Linked DNA regions of Homo sapiens. Changing the gene in region 2 together with the main gene of any one other region gives a genetic interaction. Each region holds a gene or a part of one and is shown on either strand. Other genes may lie near its edges.

Region 1 (3,500 bases), on a different chromosome or scaffold from region 2:
AAACAGGAGAAGAAATGTACAGATTATCTTGCGTTTGGGATTTTATCTTTGGTTCAGGGGTCAAAGCAGGGTTTCAATAGCAAATTACTGAAGTATTTGAATAGTGAAGTATTTTTGTGATTTTTTTTTAACTTTACCGCTGTGGAGAGACTGTTCACTTTCATTAAAAATTACAGGGCAAATACCCAAACTCCTTCCAAGTCAAAAGGATGTTGTCCAGTTTGTTTTATTGTTAAGAAAACTATCAACTTCCTTAAGAATGTTTGAATAAGATTCAATAGGGCCGAATAAGGAAAATCAAAGTAGTAGTGTAAATCGTAGTATAATTCTTGTTGTTGAGAAGTATAGCCTTTTTTTTCTTTTCAAATTTTCTTGTTCTTTTTTGTTTTTTGTTTTGTTGAGACAGGGTCTTGCTTTGTCACCCAAACTGGAGTGCAGTGGTACAGTCATAGCTCATGGCAGCTTAGACCTCCTGGGCTCAAGTGATCCTCCTGCCTCAGCCTCCCAAGTAGCTAGGACTGCAGGTGTGCACCCCCACATCCAGCTAATTATTTTATTTCTTGTAGAGTTCGAGTTTCACTTTGTCACCCAGGCTGGTCACCGGCTAACTTATTTTTTGTAGAGATGGAGTTTTGCTTTGTTGCCCAAGCTGGTCACAAACTCTTTTTTTTAAATAGAAACATCTTCAAGCACAATGTCCTTGCTTTCTTGTTATGAAGAGTGCTCTTAAGGCCTTCATGGATTGTCACTGCCTCATAATAATGTTTTGAATACCTACGTAACTTGTATGTAAATACATACTGCTGCAAAAAGACCAACTTTTCAAAAATTTATTTATTTATTTTTTTATTTAAGAAGAATGCCAGTAACTCTTGTTGGCCTGGTCTGGATTTCAGCATCAGGTTGGCCTGGTCTGGATTCCTTTCAATAATGAATGAAAAGCTTTGAGGAAAGAATGTAAATATAATGAAATTTCAAAAGAGTTACATGTGGGCCTTGAAAAGTTAGGGGGAAAGATGAGGAGAAATACTCTTCATTCTCTCCTCCCCTTGTCCCAAAGCTCCTCTCTTCTTCTTCTTGCAAGAGGATTGAACTAGTGATTATAAAACTGTAAAGATTATACAACATACGGCAATGAGTATAATCACAATTATTGGACCACCCTTCACAGTCTATTATGTTAGAGAACGGAGAAGCATTCACAGAAGTTTCTCTGAATCTCTTAGTCATTCCCAAAAACCCAAACCAGAAAATATCTCATGTCATTGTATGTTATGTACAAATTGGCATAAGGAACAGCTCTTAGTTTGTAAAGTCTTTTAGATAATGGAGAAAGCTTCCAGCTTTTAGTTTTCAAGCTTGATCATTAGGAGGAGAATTCACTCTGTGGTTGTTTTCTACTTTGTGTTGCTTGGACAGCACAAACCTCTTATCTAGCCTTGTTTCCTTTCCAAGTAAAAAGGGACTTTGTGAGGATTGGTAGAGTTAGAACACTAAGAAATTCTGAGGCTGTAAATCAGGAACAAATCGGGTGATGGGAAACAGACGTGTTGTTCATCTATTGAGGAAGACACATTTGCTTTTTTATGTGTTACTCAAAAGATTAATATGTAGCCTCTTAATGCCTGTGTACATAACTTTCTCTGTACCACTATGTATTTCCATAGATGATATTTTTGAAAGAGAATTACCCTTAATTAATTAAAGGAAATCTACACTTTTAAGGCTGTTAATACCTATTGTCAAATTATTCTCCAGAATGTTCACTGAAGCCCTAATTGTAATAACAAAGTATTAGAAACAACCATCTCAGTAGTAGTTAACCATTGCCATTTAGATAATGGTTAAAGTATGGTATATCTTTATAAAAGATGAGATGCAATGCAGTTGTTCAAAAGAATGAATGTCAGTATATATTGATAGGGAAGACATCTGAAAAACGACTTACAGAATATGTCAGTATGTGTGTATGGTACAGTTCCATTTCTTTATAAAAACAAAAGCAAAAACAGACCTATATTTCATTGACAAAAACTCTGCAAGTCTCCATGTGAAACTGTCAAAAGTGGCTCCTTTGGGAGTAGGAACGGGAGGTTGGGAGAGATGTTAATTTTTAATTTTATGTACTGATGTTTACGTTTTCTAGGAACACATTTTTCCAGTAAGGAATGGTTTTTCTATGATATAGAATATAATTGTAGTAGCTAAAACTTTCTTAGGGACCTTTCTTATTGTTCTGCGTGCTATATTCATTTAATCCTCCTAACAAAGTCTTCGAGGTAGATACAGTTATTATCTCTATTTTATAGATGAGAAAACTGAGGCACAAAGAGGTTAAGTACCCTGTGCGAGGGTAACAGCTATAACTGAGAGTGGGAGCCTGGCTTCAGTCTCAGCCCCTGACCACACTATACCAGTGTATCCCAAGTACAAATTGTCCGCCTTAAGTAGAAATGCTTTCAGTTATGATTCAGGGTGTGGAGGCCACAGCAGAGATCACTTTTACTAAGCTTTTCTAGGTATGTCTCTTTCAGGTTCCAAAAGTATATATTGGATTATGATTGCTTATGTGTTTTTAATGAAGAAAATAGGATCCAGACATTGATTTGAAAGTCCTTCAAAAAAGTAAAAACCAGGTTGGGAGCAGTGGCTCATACCTGTAAGCCCAGCACTTTGGGAGGCTGAGGTGGGAGGATTGCTGAAGCCCAGGAGTTTGAGACCAACCTGGGCAATGTAGGGAGACCCTGTCTCTACTAAATAAATAAATAAATAAATAAATAAATAAATAAGTCGGGCATGGTGGCATGTGCCCTGTAGTCCCAGCTTCTTGGGAGGCTGAGGTGGGAGGATTGCTTGGGCCCAGGAATCAAGGCCGCAGTGAGCTGTGATTGTGCCACTGTACTACAGCCTGGGTGACAATGCAAGACTGTCTCAAAAGAAAAACAAAAGTAAGGACCAGAAAACCTGATATTGTTTGTTACACCCTTTTTTCTCTTCGATTGCCTACTTCAAGTGAATATTAATTGTATTTTAGGGAAGACTGACTTCCACAGAGACCTATCTGGAACTCCTGGTTCCTTACCTCTGCTTCTGTCAGAGCAGCTCTGGGTTTTGGTTTGTTACTATTGTACACATTAGGCTTCTATACAAGAAGAACTGGTCCCATTGGTTTAAAAATAAGTTTGAAAATCCTAGAAACAGTGAGAGTCAGAAAAAAAAACTGTTTTTATATACATATTCTCTCCCCCACCCCCTTTCTCTCCAGTTGAAATATGTTGCAGAGCTCTAAATTTAGGGATGCTTTTGGCGTATTTCTTATACACTCCAGAGGCACTCGAGATAAATTATCTTCAATGTTAGATCTCTCTTAGCTTTGCTAGTTGTATTTGTTAATCCATTTTGAGTTCTCTAGCCTGTGTCCATTTTATGTGTGTATAGAATGAGGCCATGGAGATGTTGTACAACTGTGTCGTTTGGCAGCAGAGTCCTAAGGAATTGGT
Region 2 (3,500 bases):
CGCCTGTAGTCCCAGCTACTTAGGAAGCTGAGGTGGGAGGATGGCTGGAGCCCAGAAATTTGAGGCTTTATAAATATATAAAGCCAAGAATGTACATAAAGGCAAGAAAATCACTTGAACCTGGGAGGTAGAGGTTGCTGCGAGGCGAGATTGCACCACTGCACTCCAGCCTGGGCGACAGAGTGAGGCTCCATCTTGGAAAAAAAAATTATATATATATATTTATATATAAATATATATATACATAAATAATAACAATGGCAGTTCTAATAATAAGAGCCGCAAACACTTAGCCCCTCCTCTGCGCCAGGCACTGTTTCCAAGCACTTTTCCTATATTAACTCATCAGGTCCTCGCCACAGCCCTGCGAGGTGGGACTAGTTCTATTCCCGTTTACAGATGAGGAAACTCAGGCAGATGGAGTTAATTAACCTGCTCAAGCTCAACCTGCTAGGAAGGGTAGAGCCACGTTTGAACCCTGCAGTCTGGCCCAGGGGCTAGCACTGGGCTGCTTCTTTCTGCCTCTCCACTGTCCACACCTGTTTCAGACACTGGGCTGTGTGGGCTGTCACAGCACAAGGTGGCTGCAGTCCCTGCCCTGGGGACACCTCAGCCATCCAGCAGGGGGGCCTGGTGGCAGGGACTATGAGGAGTGACCGAACCAAGTGTGAGTTGCTCTGCGCAGGTAGAGAGGGCAGAGGCCCCGTGGCTCTGGCGGGGCACTGGCACTTGCTGATCTTTTCTGGGAAACCACTTGCTTTTGGAGACACTGAAAACTAAATCAAAAGGTTAAGAAATCCAGCTCTGTCCTCACCTGGCAGCTGTCTTCTCCCGCAGCCCTCTTTCCTACGGGTCTGCAGCTGGGGCTGGGGGGAGGTGTCGTCCCTGGCCTGTGCAGAATGTTACTCCTGTCCTCTGCCACTCCACCAGCACCCTGTCTCCTTTCTGTACCTTGCTACTCCTTCTACCATGATCTTGTCCCACTCTCCCCTCAGACTCATTCCCAGGGACATAACCTAGGCCTTGTCACCATCAAATAACTCCATCCCAAGCTTCCCACCAGCTGACCCAACCTGTGTGGATCATGCCCCCGGGACCCCAACTCCAACGATGCTGCGGCTTCCCAGGGCTTGCTCCCTTCCCTGAAGCTCAGCCAGCTTGGACCCCACATCTACCATTCCTTCCTTTGCACACACCTGAAGCCCCTACCCCTAACTGGACTGAGACAAGCACAACTCTGGTTCAGACTCCAAGTCCCTGCCAGCTCCCACTAGCACCCTGCTAAAAATCCCACCAGATGCTTAAAAGCCACCTCTAGCGGCCAGACGCGGTGGCTCATGCCTGTAATCCCAGCATTTTGGGAGGCTGAGGCGGGTGGATCACGAGGTCAGGAATTCGAGACCAGCCTGGCCAACATGGTGAAACCCCCGTCTCCACTAAAAACACAAAAATTAGCTGGGCATGGTGCATGCCTGTAATCCCAGCTACTGGGGAGGCTCAGGCAGGAGAATGGCATGAACCCAGGAGGTGGAAGTTGCAGTGAGCCGAGATCGTGCCACTGCACTCCAGCCTGGGTGACAGAGTAAGACTCTATCTCAAAAAAAAAAAAAAAAAAAAAATCCCCCTCTATCCCACCCTCTAGGGTAGCCTCCAGATCCTCCCTCACCCTTCAGTGTTTCTTCTCCATTAAAAGCAACTTCATCCTACCGGGTGCTCAAGCCAGATTCCTTGGTGTTGGCTGGGCACTGTGGCTCATGCCTGTAATCCCAGCACTTTGTGAGGCCAAGGTGGGAGGATCACTTGGGGCCAGGAGCTCAAGACCAGCCTGGCCAACATAGCAAGACCTTGTCTCTAAAATTAATAATAATTTGGCCAGGCGCGGTGGCTCACGCCTGTAATCCCAGCACTTTGGGAGGCCAAGGCGGGCGGATCACAAGGTCAGGAGATCGAGACCATCCTGGCTAACATGGTGAAACCCCATCTCTACTAAAAACACACAAAAAAATTAGCTGGGCATGGTGGCGGGAGGCTGTAGTCCGAGCTACTCTGGAGGCTGAGGCAGGAGAATGGCGTGAACCCGGGAGGCAGAGCTTGCAGTGAGCTGAGATGGTGCCACTGCACTCCAGCCTGGGCGACAGAGCAAGACTCCATGTCAAAAATAAAATAAAATAATAATAATAATAATAATAATAATTTTTTTTTTTGAGACGGAGTCTTGCTCTGTCGCCCAGGCTGGAGTGCAGTGGCACCATCTCGGCTCACTGCAAGCTCTGCCTCCCGGGTTCATGCCATTCTCCTGCCTCAGCCTCCCGAGTAGCTGGGACTATAGGCACCCACCACCACGCCCGGCTAATTTTTTGTATTTTTAGTAGAGACGGGGTTTCACCGTGTTAGCCAGGATGGTCTTGATCTCCTGACCTCGTGATCCGCCCGCCTCGGCCTCCCAAAGTGCTGGGATTACAGGCGTGAGCCACCGCGCCTGGCCTAATTTATTTTATTTTTATTTATTTTTTGTTTTTTGAGACGGACTCTTGCTCTGTCACCCAGGCTGGAGTGCAGTGGCAGGATTTCAGCTCACTGCGACCTCCACCTCCTGGGTTCAAGTGATTCTCCTGCCTCAGCCTCTCAGGTAGCTGGGATTACAGGCGCCCACCACCACATCCAGCTAATTTGTGTATTTGTAGTAGAGACAGGATTTCACCAAGTTGGCCAGGCTGTTCTTGAACTCCTGACCTCAAGTGATCTGCCTGCCTCAGCCTCCCGATGTGCTGGGATTACAGGTGTGAGCCACCACGCCCGGCCAATAATAATTTTTTTTTTGAGACGGAATCTTGCTCTGTCACCCAGGCTGGAGTGCAGTGGTGCAATCTCTGCTCACTGCAAGCTCCGCCTCCCGGGCTCACGCCATTCTCCTGCCTCAGCCTCCAGAGTAGCTGGGACTACAGGCGCCCACCACCACGCCCAGAGAATTTTTTGTATTTTTAGTGGAGACGGGGTTCACCGTGTTAGCCAGAATGGTCTCTATCTCCTGACCTCATGATCTGCCCACCTCGAACTACCAAAGTGCTGGGATTATAGGCGTGAGCCACCGCGCCCAGCCTAATAGTTTTTTTAAAATTCCTTGGCATCATCCTGACTCCTCTCTTTCCCTCGCACCCCACATCCAGTCCATCAGCAGATCCTGCCAGTTCTGCTTTAAAAATAAATCCAGGGATCAGCTACTTCTCACCACCTCCCTGGTGACTCTCTGAATGTCTAAATCTGACCATGCTGCCTCTGCTCAAATCCTTTCCAGGTTTTTACTCAAAGGCAATGCCAGAGTCCTTAGAATGACCTTCAACTTTAGGTCTCCAAATACCCTTTCCTAAACCCCCTCCCCTAGGCCCACCCTAGCCAGGAGCAGGTGTTGCCCTCGAGGCCTTACCATCTGCCCTTCTCTCTGCCTGGAACTCTCTTCCCATCATCCCTGTGGCCTTGGCTCCAGTGGTGCTTCTCACCAA

What was found.
Region 1: changes in BAD (region 2) and BNIP3L together harm fitness more than expected from each alone (negative genetic interaction), as found in Homo sapiens cells (one large-scale study listed by BioGRID).

Annotation. Positions count from the first base shown.
Region 1 is NC_000008.11:26,386,054-26,389,553, forward strand, and holds part of BNIP3L (BCL2/adenovirus E1B 19 kDa protein-interacting protein 3-like), read left to right. Parts: intron 1-3,500.
Region 2 is NC_000011.10:64,278,166-64,281,665, forward strand, and holds part of BAD (bcl2-associated agonist of cell death), read right to left. Parts: intron 1-3,500. UniProt on the Homo sapiens protein: Promotes cell death. Successfully competes for the binding to Bcl-X(L), Bcl-2 and Bcl-W, thereby affecting the level of heterodimerization of these proteins with BAX. Can reverse the death repressor activity of Bcl-X(L), but not that of Bcl-2.